Regions from separate parts of the Homo sapiens genome. Here region 1 is linked to region 2. The links come from fine-mapping of genetic effects on gene expression. Tissue or cell type: whole blood. Region 2 holds a variant in brackets; the other region holds the start of a gene. All regions are shown on one strand. Distances are between the middles of the regions.

Region 1 (8,085 bases), 28 kb before region 2:
TGCTGCCATTACCCAGCGGCAGGGCTCTGAGCCTCTGTTGCATCACAGTTGCTGATCCTGAGCAAGGGGCTTCATTTCTGAGGCCTCAGTTTCCCTACCGGGGAAACGGGGATAATAATAAACTGTGGGAGGCAGGAGAACTTCACAGTTAAGAGCAGCAACTTGGGCCAGGAGTGGTGGCTCACACCTGTAATCCCAGCACTTTGGGAGGCTGAGGCGGGAGGACTGCTTGAGGCCAGGAGTTTGAGACCACCAGCCTGGGCAACATGGCAAAACCCTGTCTCTACTAAAAATAGCAAAATTAACTGGGCACGGCGGCATGTGCCTGTAATCCCAGCTACTCAGGAGGCTGCAGCACGAGAATCACTTGAACCCAGGAGGCAGATGTTGCAGTGAGCCAAGATTGTGTCACTGCACTGCAGCCCGGATGACAGAGTGAGACTCTGTCTCAAAAATAAATAAATTAAAAAAAAAAAAAAACCTACAAAAAGAGCAGCAACTCTGGAGTTAACCCATGGATGTCTGAAATCTCCTCTCTACTACTCACTGGCTTTAGGATCTCAACCTGTCTGTGCCTCAACTTTCTCATCTGGTATGTAGGGGAAATAATGTTTTTTTGTTTGTTTGTTTGTTTTCTTTTTGTGGAGATGGGCTCTTGCTCTGTTGCCCAGGCAGGTCTTGAACTCATGGGTTCAAGTGTTCCTTCCACCTCGGCCTCCCAAAGTGCTGGAAATTACAGGTGCAAGCCATGAAATAATGGTTCTTTTGAGGGTGGTTGTGAAGACTAGATGAGATGGCGCATGTAAAGCTGTCAGCCCAGTGCTTGGCAAGTTGTGAGTGCTAGGCAAACATGAACTATTATTACTAATATGAATGCCTGAGTCACATGGCTGTTGAGGGAGTTAAATGAGATAATGTATGAACACCATCTGGCATGCAATAAATGTTTGCTTAAAAATAAATGCCTGCCTTATGGGAATGGTTTGTGCAAGAAAAATGAGGAGACACTCCCAACAGCACACTCCCACTCAAAGGAGAGTGCTTGGCCATACCTCAGAAGATGGAGGAGTAAAATGTCTTTTTCTATTTGAAGATACAAAAAAGCTTATGCGTAAATAAATAAATAAATCCACAAATGCTGTTTGGCTTGTCTCTAGAAAAATAAGTCAGGGCTGTCTTTTAGAATCTGCCTTGAGACCAGGCATGGTGGCTCATGCCTGTAATCCCAGCTCTTCAGGAGGCCAAGGTGGGTTGATGACCTGAGGTCAGGAGTTTGACGCCAGCCTGGTGAACAGGGCGAAACCCCGCATCTACTGAAAATACAAAAATTAGCCGGGCGTGGTGGCAGGCGCCTGTAGTCCCAGCTACTTGGAAGGCTGAGGCAGGAGAATAGCTTGAACCTGGGAGGTGGAGGTTGCCGTGAGCTGAGATTGAGCCACTGCACTCTAGCCTGGGCAACAGAGGGAGACTCCATCTAAAAACAAACAAACAAAAAACAAAGAAAACAAGAATCAGCCTTGAAAGGGTCTTCAGAGAATATGTGGACCAGCCCTGCTGTTTTAGGGCTGGGGAGGCCCAGCGAGACGCAGTGACTTGCTTCAGATCACACAGCGAGCTGGGGGTGAGCACGGAGATTTCCTGTCCACAGTTTGTGGTGGGGGTTGCAGACACCTCAGTACAAATCCCCACTCTTGGGTGGAGGGCTGGGACTGAGAGTGGGTGGGTGGGGCAGGGAAGAAGTGACAGGTGTCATAAGTTGCTAAGGAGAGCCAGACAGGAAGTGGACAGCAAACTAGGAAAGCAGTATTGGGGGAGGACAGCCAAGGCTAGGCTGTCCCTCCCTGGGCAAGGTGCAAGTCCACAGGTGATTAGGGTGTGGCTCTGAGTGAGAAGTCCTAAGAAGAAGGACAAGTTCCCATCTGGGGGAGGAGAGGAGGAGACAGCAACAGAAACACTTGATTTTAGGTTTTCTGAGCCTTAGCTTCCTCATCTTTTTTTTTTTTTTTTTTTTTGACAGGGTCACGCTCTGTCCCCCAGGCTAGAGTGCAGTAGCACAATCATAGCTCACTGCAGCCTCGAACTCCTAAGCTCAAGCCATCCTCCTGCCTCAGCCTCCCAAGTAGCTGGGACTATAGTCGTGTACCACCAAACCTGGATAATTTTTAAATTTTTTGTAGAGGTGGGGTCTCACTATGCTGCCCAGGCTGGTCTTGAACTCCTGGCCTCCAGTGATCCTCTGGTCTTAGCCTCCCAAAGTGTTGGGACTACAGATGTGAGCCATTGCACTCCACCCCTCATCTTTGAAATGAAGCTGAAAAGCCCATCTCATAGGGTAGTTGGGAGGTGTAATAGAAAAAAAAAAGCATTGGGCATGTATAGTACCTGACACACAGCAGGCCCTCAAGAAAGGCAGTTTTTTGTTTTTGTTTAGTTTTGAGACAGAGTCTCGCTCTGTCACCCAGGCTGGAGTGCAGTGGCACGATCTTGGCTCACTGCAACCTCCAGCTCCTGGGTTCAAGCGATTCTCCTACCTCTGCCTCCCAAGTAGCTGGGATTACAGGCTTGCACCACCATGCCCCGCTAATTTTTTTGTATTTTTAGTAGAGATGGGGTTTAACCATGTTGGCCAGGCTGGTCTCCAACTACTGACCTCAGGTAATCTCCCACCTCAGCCTCCCAAAGTGCTGGGATTACAGGCGTGAGCCACCACGCCCAGCTGACAGTTTTCTTTCTCCCTGTCTCCCTTCCGGTCTGGGCAAGGAGGAAAGAGAGGAAAGAATCATCCATTCCTTAGCAAGAAGTGACTGTGGGCAGAGGCCAGGTCATGTCTCAGAACTGCCGACGTCAGAAGACACCACTCCCATAGAGACCATCCTGCCTAGCCCTTCCCCCTGGGGCACAGAGCAGAGAACCCACTTGCTCGAGGCCATACTGCCTGGGCCGCTGCAGGCCTGGGTTCATCAGAGGTCTCCAAGTCCTGTTACACTGTGGCTTCCCCTCTGCAGGAAAGTTTATTTTACTGGGTTTGTTTTGGAGGGTGGTGGGTAAGATGGAAACAGAAACCAAGCAACGGGTCCCCAGCCCAGCTGCGAGGCCGTGCCTGACCAGCCGACTGGCCAAGGTGAAGGATACACATCTCTCATGGCTTCCAGGGTGGACGCCCGCAGAATGTCTCGGATGCCGATGACATTCTCATGGCGGAAGCGCAGCAGGATCTGGATCTCCCGGAGCGTGCGCTGGCAGTAGGTCTGATGTTCGAAGGGGCTGATCTTCTTGATGGCCACGCGAGTCTTGCGCACGTGGTCATAGGCCGAGCTGAGGGGACCGGAGAGAGGCTGCTGCTGTGGCCTTACAAAGGGGGAGTCCGGGCCTGGTGGCCCCACCCAGGCCTTGGCAGGGAGGGGAGAGAGCAGGAGCTGGCTCTGGTCAAATCATAAACAATGCTGGTTCCTTCCTGCTGTGGAGGCCTGGGATCTCCAGAGAGAAAGCTGGGGACCAGCCAGGCGGCCCTTCGGTGACTTTACAAACAGAGGAAGAGACTGACCGCTCACTGACTTCCCCTCTCCTCAATCCCCTTCCATTCTACTGGCCCTGAACCCTTCGCCCCCATTCCCAGGAAAGGCTCCTTAACCCAAGACAGGTCCGGGGGTGCAGATGCTGGGGACACACCATGGGGCAAATACTGGGAAGGTGGCAGCCAGGGGAGGGGCAGGAGAGAATGGACAGGGCAGGGGAGGGTCCCAGGGTGAGGGATCCGGGCAGCGGGGCTGTCCCAGAGGGATAGAGGCCCAGAGCACACGGTGGGGCCGGGGGCACTCACAGACCCCTCCCAAAACATGCAGGTGGCACTCCTGGCCGCCTCATCTCTCTCTGGGCCCCTGGGGTGGTGGGGCCAAAGCCCTGCCCCACCCTGATCTCGGCTCTTCTCCCCCAGGCTCCCTGGCACTGCCTCACAGGGGGAATCCAAGACACCCTTTCCCCCAAAACGGGCCCTCCACTGCCTCTTCACTAAGGATGTCGCCTCCCCGAGAGTACTCATCCTCTGGGCCTCGCCCCGTGTCACTAGGGTCCCCGCGGGCCCCCACATGCACTCGGATGCCCCTCCCATCATTACAGAAGGGTGGACTCAAAGCCTCCAAGCCTGCTCCCCTGAGGACGTAGGCAGCGCCCCCTCCCCCAGAAAGCACTCAGGGGCCCCCTCCCTGGGACGCTCCCGATCATCCCGAGTCTCCTGCCTCCTCGGGACGCTCCGCGTCTCCACGTCCCGGAAAGCGCTCGGCGCCTCCTCCTCCTCTCCCGCGAAGCCCCCTCCCCTGAGGGCACCCCCTCCCCCGGAACGCCCCCTCACCTGACCATGCCGTACGCGCCCTCGCCGATGTACTGCAACTGCGTGTAGCGCGGGCCCACGTCGAACGGCTGCCCCTTCACCATCTCCACCTCCCCCGGGACCCCCGGGCCGACCCCCTCGGTTCTACGGGGCTCCCCGCCCCCGCCCCCCTGAGCCGCCGCCGCCGCCATCTCCACTCCTCCCCTCCCACCGCCCTCCTCCCCACGGCGGCCCCGCCCGAGGCCCCGCCCCTTCCCGCCTGCCTGTCACCCGCAGGGCCGCGCGCGCCAGGCCCCGCCCTTGCCCCGGCCCCGCGTGGGCCTGGAGCTGTCACGTGACCCGCCCCGCGCGCGCCCGCCCTTCTTGCCCCAGGTTCGGGGGCCATGGGTCCCTGCGGGCTCCGCGGCCTCCAGGTCACCGGGAGGTTCGGCAGCGCCGCCTCGGAGACTGTCCTCACCCTCCCCTCGATGGCGAAGCGGCCAGGGCGTGACCTACCAGAGCCACCCAGCCAATGTATGCGGCAGCCCACCAGAACCTGGGCCCGGGATCACCCTAGGTTAAAAATAATGTTCTAATAAATGGATCAAATTTTACAGATGGAGAATCTGAGAGTTAGGTTTACTAACTTGGGTAAGGTCACTAGTAGTGACAGCTGAGACTCAAAATGGTGTCTTCTGACACAGAGACTCTTTCTAATTCCATGCCTCTCAGAGTCCTAGACTGTTTTTATTTTATTATAGAGACAGGGTCTCTCTCTGTCGTCCAGGCTGGAGTGTAGTGGTGCAATAATTGCTCACTGCAGCCTCAACCTCCCTGGGGTCAAGTGATCCTCCCACCTCAGCCTCCCAAAGAGCTGGGACTACGAGTGCGCGCCACCACGCCCTGCTAATTAAAAAAAAAAATTGGGGGGCTGGGCACGGTGGCTCACGCCTGTAATCCCAGCACTTTGGGAGGCCGAGGTGGGCAGATCACCTGAGTTTGAGACCAGCCTGACCAACATGGTGAAACCCCGTCTCTACTAAAAATACAAAAATTAGCTGGGCATGGTGGCACGTGCCTGTAATCCAAGCTACTTGGGAGACTGAGGCAGGAGAATCGCTTGAACCCGAGAGGAGGAGGTTGCAGTGAGCTGAGATTGCACCACTTCACTCCAGCCTGGGCGACAGAGCAACACTCCGTCTCAAAAACAAAAAACAAAAAGAAGAAGAGAAAAAGTAGGGTTGCAGAAGGTAGGGACTGAAGAAAGGCATGAAGGAGAAGGATCGGGGTGAGCTGAGGCATAAAGGCAGAAGCATAACTTGTCCAGCATGGCTGCAGTAAAAAAATGATGAGGTTTCAGCCTGGAGAGGTAGGTTGGGGCCAGATTAGGAAGGCTCTGGATTCTGGCAAGGAGTTTGGATGTTACTCAGTAAGCAGTAAAAACCCTAGAGGGACTTTTGCCAGATCATTTTGCAACTGCGGGAGAATATAGTGACTCAGAGAAAACACTATGGAGTTCAGCATGGAGCCAGGTTTGCTGAGTGGGAGTGAGTTTCCCAGCATAGGAAAGGCTGGTGTATCAGAGCTGCAAGCTGCCACCTCCTGCTGCTGGAAGCTCAGTTAGAGTGTGACTGAGATTCCCCTCTAGTGACTGAGGTTGGCATTTCCTTGGAGGACTGGACTGGGATTTGTTCTGGTTCATAGACGCATATTCAACTAATGTAGACTTACCATCTCTTCTGTGCCAGGCACTTTTGGTTTTTTTTTGTTTGTTTGTTTGTTTGTTTTTTTGAGACGGAGTCTTGCTCTATCACCCAGGCAGGAGTGCAAGCTCACTGCAACCCCTACCTCCTGGGTTCAAGTCATTCTCCCACCTCAGCCTCCCAAGTAGCTAGGATTACAGGCGCCAGCCACCACGCCCGGCTAATTTTTGTATTTTTAGTAGAGACGAGGTTTCACCATGTTGGCCAGGCTGGTCTCAAACTCTTGACCTCAGGTGATCCACCCACATTGGCCTCCCAGAGTGCTGAGATTACGGCACCTGGCTTGCCAGGCACTTTTATGTACACTACCTCCTGTAATCCTCACAGCAGCCATATGAAGTAGATACTATTAACATTTAACTGGAAAATGATGCTGGCTGGTCGTGGTGGCTCACCTCTGTGATTCCAGCACTTTGGGAGGCTGAGGCAGGCTGATTGCTTGACCCCAGCAGCTGGAGACCAGCCTGGGCAACATAGTGAGATCCCATCTCTACCAAAAATACAAAAATGAGCTGGGTGTGGTGGCATGCGTCCGTAATCCCAGCTACTTGGGAGGCTGAGGCAGGAGGATCAGTTGAGCCCAGGATGTTGAGGTTGCAGTGAGCTCTGATGGTGCCACTGCACTCCAGCCTGGGTGACAGAGTGAGAGACCCTGCCCCCACCCCCACCCCCCCAAAAAAAGGGACAGAGGGAAAACGATGTGGAAGCTTACGCTCTGTCACCCAGGCTGGAGTGCAGTGGCGCGATCTCAGCTCACTGCAAGCTCCGCCTCCCAGGTTCACGCCATTCTCCTGCCTCAGCCTCCTGAGTAGCTGGGACTGCAGACACCCGCCACCATGCCTGGCTAATTTTTTGTATTTTTAGTAGAGACGGGGTTTCACCGTGTTAGCCAGGATGGTCTCCATCTCCTGACCTCATGATCCACCTGCCTCGGCCTCCCAAAGTGCTAGGAGTACAGGCGTGAGCCACTGTGCCCGGCAGAATTATTTTTCTAGCACAGGGTCTTGCTCTGTTGCCCAGGCTGGAGTGGAGTGTAGTGGCAAGATCATAGGTCACTGCAGGCTCGAACTCTTAGGCTCAACAGATCCTGCCACCATGCCTAGCACACACAACCACGCCTAGCTAATTTTTTTTTTTTGTTTTTGAAACGGAGTCTTGCTCTGTTGCCCAGGCTGGAGTGCAATGGTGCAATCTCAGTTCACTGCAACCTCTGCCTCCCGGGTCTCCTGCCTCAGCCTCCTGAGTAGGTGGAACTACATGCGTGTGCCACCATGCCTGGCTAATTTTTTGTATTTTTATTAGAGAGGGGGTTTCACCGTGTTAGCCAGGATGGTCTCTATCTCCCGACCTCGTGATCCGCCCGTGTCGGCCTCCCAAAGTGCTGAGATTACAGGTGTGAGCCACTGCGCCCAGCATTTTTTTTTTTTTTTTTGAGATGGAGTCTCCCTCTGTGCCCAGGCTGGAATGCAATGGCACAATCTCGGCTCACCTTGACCTCTACTTCCCAGGTCAAGCGATTCTCCTGCCTCAGCCTTACAAGTAGCTGGGATTACCGGCACACGTCACCACGCCTGGCTAATTTTTATATATTTAGTAAAGATGGGGTTTCACCATGTTGGCCACGCAGGTTTCAAACTCCTGACCTCAAGTGATCTGCCCACTTTGGCCTCCCAAAGTGCTGGGATTACAGGTGTGAGCCACCGTGCCTGGCTTGGCTAATTTTTAGAATGTTTGTAGAGAAGGGTTCTAGCTAATGTTGCCCAGTCTGGTCTCAAATTTCTAGGCTCAAGTGATCCTCTCACCTCGGCCTTTCGGAGTGCTAGGATTACAGTCATGAGCCACTTCGGCTGGCTCCAGATTAAATCTTAAACCAGTTATTAGCTTTTTGTGATTTTCAAGGTCTGGCACTTCTTTTTTTCTTTCTTTCTTTCTTTTTTTTTTTTTTTGAGGCAGTGTCATGCTGTGTCGCCCAGGCTGGACTGCAGTGGTGCGGTCATGGCTCACTGCAACCTCTGC
Region 2 (8,099 bases):
GCCCTTATCTCTTTTCTTTTCCTTTTTTGTTCTCCTTTCATATTCCATCATTGAAAGGTAGGAACATACAGCATAACTTAAAATTAGGAACAGAGTTCACATATAACTTTTTTTTTTTTTTTTTTTGAGATGGAGTCTTGCTCTGTCACCAGGCTGGAGTGCAGTGGCGCAATCTTGGCTCACTGCAACCTCTGCCTCCCAGGTTCAAGCAATTCTTCTGCCTCAGCCTCTTGAGTAGCTGGGACTACAGGCACGTGCCACCACACCCAGCTAATTTTTTTTGTATTTTTAGTAGAGACGCGGTTTCATCATGTTGGTGAGGCTGGACTCGATCTCCTGATCTTGGGATCCACCCGCCTTGGCTTCCCAAAATGCTGGGATTACAGGCATGAACCACCACACCCAGCCACCTTTTTTTTTTTTTTCTTTTTCTTTTTGAAGACAGAATCTTGCTCTGTTGCCCAAGCTGGAGTGCAGTGGCGCAATCTCAGCTCAATGTAGCCCCCACCTCCTGGGTTCAAGTGAGTCTCCTGCCTCAGGCTCCCGAGCAGCTGGGATTACAGGCATCCGCCATCACACCTGGCTAATTTTTGTATTTTTAGTACAGACGAGGTTTCACCATGTTGGTCAGGCTGGTCTCGAACTCCTGACCTCAAGTGATCCGCCCGCCTCAGCCTCTCAAAGTGCTAGGATTACTGGTGTGAGCCACTGCGCCTGGCCCATATAACCTTTTTAAAAAATAACAGCTTTATTGGAATATAAAACATACACCATTAAGTTTACCCTTTCAAAGTGTACAGTTTGGTGGGTTTGGTTTTTAGTTGATTCACAAAGTTCATCTGTCACCACTATGTAATTCCAAAATATTTTCACCCCAGGAAGAAACTCTATACTAATTGGCAGCCACTCCCTGTCCCCTCCCTACTCCCCAAGTCCCTGGCAACCACTAATCTAATTATTGTCTCCATGGATTTGCCTATTCTGGACAGACCACATGTAAAGTTTTTGCTTAATCTGATTAATTGATAGGTTCCACTTTTACAGATAAATAGCTTTTCATGTCAGCAAAAATGAAAGATTTAAAATGTAGTACTAGGCTGGTCACAGTGGCTCACGCCTGTAATCCTAACACTTTGGGAGGCCAAGCTAGGTGGATCACTTGAGCTCAGGCATTCAACACCAGCTTGAGCAACATGGCAAAACCCGGTCTCTACAACAAATACAAAAAATTAGCCGGGTGTGGTGGTGCATGCCTGTGCTCTCAGCTCCCAGCTACTTGGGAAGCTGAGGTGGGAGGATCACTTGACCCTGGGAGGCAGAGATTGCAGTGAGCCAAGATCACACTACTGCATTCCAGCCTGGGCAACAGAGTGAGACCCCATCTCAAAAAAAAAAAAAATATATATATATATATATGTAGTACCTGACCTCCCCCAAAGTTATTTGAGGTTCAAATGATTTATTTCAGCCTCCACTTAACTAGAGCTGACCTCTTATTAGACACCTTGGGGACATTACTATGAGCCTTAAAGAAATAAAAAGTATTATAAAGGAATACAATAAATAGTTGTATGCCAATTAATTAAACAACTTAGAAAAATGGACAAAGTCCTAGAAAAACAAGAAAAACCTACCAAATTTCAGGAAGAAATGGAAATTCTGAATAGACATATAACAAGTAAATAGATTGAAGTAGTAATAAAAAACTTCCCACAGGTTGGCGTGGTGGCTCATGCCTGTAATCCCAGCACTTTGGGAGGCCGAGGTGGGCAGACCACGAGGTCAAGAGATCAAGACTATCCTGGCTAACACCGTAAAACCCCGTCTCTACTAAAAAAAAATTAGCCAGGCATTGTGGTGGGTGCCTGTAGTCCCAGCTACATGGGAAGCTGAGGCAGGAGAATGGTGTGAACCCAGGAGGTGGAGCTTGCAGTGAGATGAGATCGTGCCACTGCACTCCAGCCTGGGCAACAGAGCGAGACTCCCTCTCGAGAGAAAAAACAAAAACAAAAACAAAAACTTCCACAAAGGCTCATGCCCACAGGGCTTCACTGCTGTATTTAACTAAACATTTAGAGAAAAATTAATACCAGTTTTTCATAAACTCTTTCAAAAAATAGAAGAAGAGGCAACATTTCCCAACTCTTTTTATGAGGCCAGTATTACCCTGATGCCAAAGCCAGACATAAGAAAGGAAACTACAGATCAGTATTTCTTATTAATATAGAGGCAAAAATCTTCAAATACCAGCAGACAGAATCCAGCACCACATCAAAAGGACAGTACACCATGATCAAGTGCGAATGATCCCAGGAATGCAAGGCTGGTTCAATATCTGAAAATACATTAACTTAATACACCATAATTTTAGAATAAATGGAAAAAAGCAATTAATCATCTCAATAAATGCAGAAAAAAACTTTGACAAAATTCAACATTCTTTCGTAAGAAAAAAACCATGCAACAAACTACAAGTAAAAGACAACTTCCTCTACCTGATAAAGAGCATCTGTGAAAAACCCACAGCTGACATCATACTTAATGGTGAAAGTTCCTGACAGATCAAAATAAGACAAGGAAGTCCGCTCTTACCACTTTTATTCTGTATTGTACTGGAGATTCTAGCCAGGAAAATTAAGCAAGAAAGTGAAATAAAAGGCATCTAGATTGGAAAGAAAGAAGTGAAACTATCTATAGATTACATGATCTTGTATATAGAAAATATACAAGATCCAAGGCCGGGCGTGGTGGCTTATGCCTGTAATGCCAGCATTTGGGAGGCCAAAGTGGGCAGATCATTTGAGATCAGCAGTTTGAGACCAGCCTGGCAAACATGGTGAAACTCCGTCTCTACTAAAAATACAAAAAATTAGCTGGGCATGGTGGTGCACACCTGTAATCCCAGCTACTCAGAGTCTGAGGCAGGAGAATCCCTTGAAGCTGGTAGGCAGAGTTTGCAGTGAGCTGAGATCGTGCCACTGCACTCCAGCCTGGGTGACAGAGTCAGACTCTGTCTCAAACAAAACAAAACAAAAACAAAAAAAGAAAATATATAAGATCCTGTAAATCCTAAGGAACCCACTAAAAAATCAGAACTTTAATCGCCAGGGAAATGCAAATCAAAACCTCTGAAGAAAAAACACAAACTGTTTTTTTTCTTGGCTCTCACACCACAGTAACAATCACTACAGAAGTCTTCTGTGACCGGGCTGGGTGCGGTGGCTCACATCTGTAATCCCAGCACTTTGGGAGGCCAAGGTGGGTGGATCACGAGGTCAGGAGTTCAAGAACAGCCTGACCAACGTGGTGAAAACCTATCTCTACTAAAAACACAAAAAGAATAGCCAGGTGTGGTGGCAGGCACCTGTAATCCCAGCTACTGGGGAGGCTGAGGCAGGAGAAATGCTTGAACCAGGGAAGCAGAGGTTGCAGTGAGCAGAGATCACACCACTGAACTCCAGCCTGGGCAACAGAGTGAGACTTGGTCTCAAAAAAAAAAGAAAAGAAAAGGAAAAGAAAAAAGAAAAAAAAAAGAAGTCTTCTGTGACCAAATGTTGGGGGGAACTCCTGCCAACACCAAGCAAACAACCAATTCTCCAATGGACAATTCTGAATTGAGTGTCCTCCAATTCAATTCCAACACTATCTACCTGAAGATAGCATCAGATCCCACAAGTTGAGGGTTCAATCCCACAAGACTGCACCCCTACACACACCAGAACTTCTGACCGACTGGCTTCAAATTGGGGTTTCCATGATTCCCTCTTTTTTTTTTTTTTTTTTTTTTTTTTTTGAGACAGAGTCTCCTCTGCCACCCATGCTGGAGTGCAGTGGCAGAGATCTCAGCTCACTGCAAGCTCCGCCTCCCAGGTTCATGCCGTTCTCCTGCCTCAGCCTCCTGAGTAGCTGGGACTACAGGTGCATGCCACAACGCCCAGCTAATTTTTTGTATTTTTAGTAGAGATGGGGTTTCACTGTGTTAGCCAGAGATGGTTTCGATCTCCTGACCTCGTGATCCGTCCGCCTCGGCCTTCCAAAGTGCTGGGGTTACAGGCATGAGCCACCATGTCTGGCACAGCTCTCTCTTTAGTGAGAGTGGGGACTTCTGAGAGGAAAAGACCAGCAGGTGGGGGATGTGCCATATTTTATAGTCAGATTTGAGGATGTGGTGCCTGATTTACATAGGACTCACAGATTGGTTTGATCAAGAGTGATATTACATAGCATGCAGGGAAGGCTGGCTGCCTCACCCTAATCATATTATGCAAATGAACTTTCCCCTTGGCCTTCGCCATCTTGTCTGCTCTTTACTGTACACGTGGCTGACAAAGAGAAGGGAAGATGGAGCCACCATCTTGAACATGATTGGCACAACTGCCAACATCTATGTCTGCAGCTCGATTTTACAGGCTACTCTTCGTTAGAAAGGAAAATAATTTGGGGCTGCTTTTCATTAAAAGGAGAACCTTACCAAAGACTTCTGTACCCTTACTATCTGCCTAAGTAATTTCTTCTTAACTCCTGTATGACCTCCACATGGTCAGCTATCCGGAAGCTCCCTAAGCCCTGTCCTTTTGGCCTTTTATGGAGACTTAATTGGATAGGCATGACTCAAGCATGGACAAATGTGTAGAAAGGTGATTGGTCAAAAAGGGCACGATCTAATACTAATACCCTGAATGGGGAACCCCAGCAAGGCCCTTGTGTTCAGCAACTCCTTGG[C/T]CTCTCTGTGCAGCTTTCCTTCCTCCAGGGTATGGGCAGGAGTCCTACCGAAATGAAGGTGTCATCAACTACACTCAGACAAGGTATGTCAGAGAGTTTCTTTATGGCCAATTTCAATACAGAAAGGTAGGGGAAGATTCCTGCCTTGGTGAGAAAAAGAAGCAGGTGAAAGGAGAGCAGGAGAAGGTCAAACAGAGAGAGAGAGTTTTTTTTTTTTTTTTTGAGACGGATTCTTGCTCTGTTGCTCAGGCTAGAGTGCAGTGATCTCCGCTCACACTAACCTCCGCCTCCCAGGTTCAAGCGATTCTCCTGCTTCAGCCTCCTAACTGGGACTACAGGCGCCCGCCACCACACCTGGCTAATTTTTGTATTTGTAGTAAAGACGGGGTTTCACCATGTTGGCCAGGCTGGTCTTGAACTCCCGACCTCGTGATTCACCCACCTTGGCCTCCCAAAGAGCTGGGATTACAGGCATGAGCCACCACACCCAGCCAAGAGATTCTTTTTTCAATGAGGCCTGCTTCAGAGGATTGCAGCACTCCAGCATTCTAGCAAGAGCTATGGGAGCTGTGAACCAGGAACTGTGGACAAAATCTAGATGTATATATATATATATCACCAAATCACAATGAGGTGCTGCCTCATACCTGTTACGATGGCCACTATAGAAAACAAAAACAAAAAACACCAAAACCAGAAAATACGTGTGGCAAGAATGAGAGCGAATTGGAAACCCCGTGCACTGTTGGTGGGAATGTAAAATGGTACAGCTAATGTGGAAAACTGTGTGAAAGTTCCTCAAAATATTAAAAATAGAACTACCATATGATCCAGCAGTCCCACTTTTGGGTATTTATTTATTTATTTATTTATTTATTTATTTATTTATTTTTGAGACGGAGCTTCGCTCTTGTCACCCAGAATGGAGTACAATGGTGCGATCTTGGCTCACAGGAACCTCCGCCTCCTGGGTTCATGCGATTCTTGTGCCTTGGTCTCTCAAGCAGCTGGGACTACAGGGGTGTGCTATCACGTCCAGCTAATTTGTGTGTGTGTGTGTGTGTGTGTGTGTGTCTGTGTATGTTTTTTGAGACAGAGTCTCACTCTGTCGCCCAGGCTGGAGTGCAGTGGTGTGATCTTGGCTCATTACAACCTCCATCTTCCGGGTTCAAGTGATTCTCCTGCCTCAGCCTCCTGAGTAGCTGGGATTACAGGCATCTGCCACCATGCAGACTAATTTTTATATTTTTAGTAGAGACGGGGTTTCACCATGTTGGCCAAGCTGGTCTCAAACTCCTGACCTCAGGTCATCCACCCACCTCAGCCTCCCAAAGTGCTGGGATTACAGGCATGAGCCATGTGCCCGGCCTAATTTTTGTGTTTTCAGTAGAGACAGGGTTTCACCATGTCAGCCAGGCTGGTCTTGAACTCCTGACCTCAAGTGATCCACACACCTCAGCCTCCCAAAGTGCTGGGATTACAGGCATGAGCCACGTGCCCGGCCTAATTTTTGTGTTTTCAGTAGAGACAGGGTTTCACCATGTCAGCCAGGCTGGTCTTGAACTCCTGACCTCAAGTGATCCACCCACCTCGGCCTCCCAAAGTGCTGGAATTACAGGTGTGAGCCACTGCGCCTGGCCACTTCTGGGTATTTATCCAAAAGAATTGAAATCAGAATCTCAAAGAGATATCTGCATTCCCATGTTCATTTCAGTATTATTTACAATAATCAAGAGGTGTACACAACCTAAATGTCCACTAACAGATGAATGGATAAAGAAAATGTGAGGCCAAGGTGGGCGGATCACGAGGTCAGGAGATTGAGACCATCCTGGCTAACACGGTGAAACCCCATCTCTACTAAAAATACAAAAAATTAGCCAGGTGTGGTGGCGGGCGCCTGTAGTCCCAGCTACTCAGGAGGCTGAGGCAGGAGAATGGCGTGAACCCGGGAGGTGGAGCTTGCAGTGAGCTGAGATTGCGCCACTGCGCTCCAGCCTGGGTGATGGAGCAAGATTCCATCTCAAAAAAAAAGAAAGAAAGAAAGAAAGAAAATGTGGCACAGACATACAATGGAATATTATTCAGCTGTAAAAAGGAGGAAATCTTGTCATATGCTACAACACAGATGAACCCTGAAGACTGATACAGTTTCGATGTGTGTCTCTGCCCAAATCTCTTGTAGAAATGCAATCCCCAATGTTGGAGGTGGGGCCTGTGGGGAAGTGTTTGGATCACGGGGGCAGATCCCTCATAAATGGCTTGCGCCATCTCCTTAGCAATAAGTGAGCCCTTACTCTGAGTTCACACGAGATCTGACTCTTTAAAAGTTAGTGGCACCCCTCCTCACCCTCTCGCTGTCTTGCTCCTGTTTTCGCCATGACATGCCTGCTCCCCATTCGCCTTCTGCCATGATTTTAAGTTTCCTGGGGCCTCCCCAGAAGCCAAGCAGATGCCAGCACCATGCTTCCTGTACAGCCTGCAGAACCATGAGCCAATTAAACCTCTTTTCACCGTAAATTACCCAGTCTCCGGCATTTCTTTATAGCAAAGCAAGAATGGCTTAAGACAAAGACATTATACTAAGTGAAATAAACCAGTTATAGAAGGACAAAAACTGCATGATTCCACTCATACGAGGTATCTAAAGTAGTCAAACTCACCAAAACAAAAATTAGAAAGGTGATGTTCAGCAGCTGAGGGGAGGGGGAGAGGAGGAGTTGCTGTTTATTGGGTATCGAGTTTCAGTCATGCAAAATGAAAAATTTTAGAATCTGCTGCACTACGTTGTGATCGTAGTTTAAAGTACTGTACACTTAAAACTTGCTCGGGTCCAGGTGTGGTAGCTCATGCCTGTAATCCCAGCACGTTAGGAGGCCGAGGCGGGCGGATCACGAGGTCAGGAGATCGAGACCATCCTGGCCAACATGGCAAAACCCCGTCTCTACTAAAAAATAAATAAATAAAAATTAGCTGGGGATGGTTGCGTGGCATGGAGGCTGAGGCAGGAGAATTGCCGGAACCCGGGAGGCAGAGGCCACAGTGAGCCAAGATCGTGCCACTGCCCCCTAGCCTGGGCGACAGAGTAAGACTCCATCAAAAGCAAACAAACAAACAAAAATCAACAACAAAAACTTGCTAGGAGGGTACATCTCATGTTATATGTTTTATCACAATAAGAAAATAAAACTGGCCAGGCACAGTGGCTCACACCTGTAATCCCAGCACTTTGGGAGGCTGAGATGGAAGGATCTCTTGAGCCCAGGAGTACGAGACCATCCTGGGCAACACCGTGAAACCCCCGTCTCGACAAAAATAAACAAAATCAGCTGGGCATGGTGGTGCATGCATGTGGTCTCAGCTATTTGGGAGGCTGA

Evidence for each region. PIP is the estimated chance that this variant, and not a neighbour inherited with it, causes the effect.
Region 1: MAPK3 starts here. The variant in region 2 is fine-mapped to the expression of MAPK3 in whole blood (INTERVAL, PIP 0.93).

Annotation. Positions count from the first base shown.
Region 1 is chr16:30,118,692-30,126,776 of GRCh38, forward strand. It overlaps MAPK3 (mitogen-activated protein kinase 3), which reads right to left and starts at 4,529. Exons shown (of 9, transcript NM_002746.3): 1 at 4,349-4,529; 2 at 3,133-3,315. The coding sequence starts at 4,518. RefSeq lists a silencer at 4,521-4,890.
Region 2 is chr16:30,147,123-30,155,221 of GRCh38, forward strand. No RefSeq gene overlaps it. Among named protein-coding and RNA genes, the nearest start is that of MAPK3, 28 kb to the left of the region's middle. The variant C/T (reference allele first, on the strand shown) is at 4,723.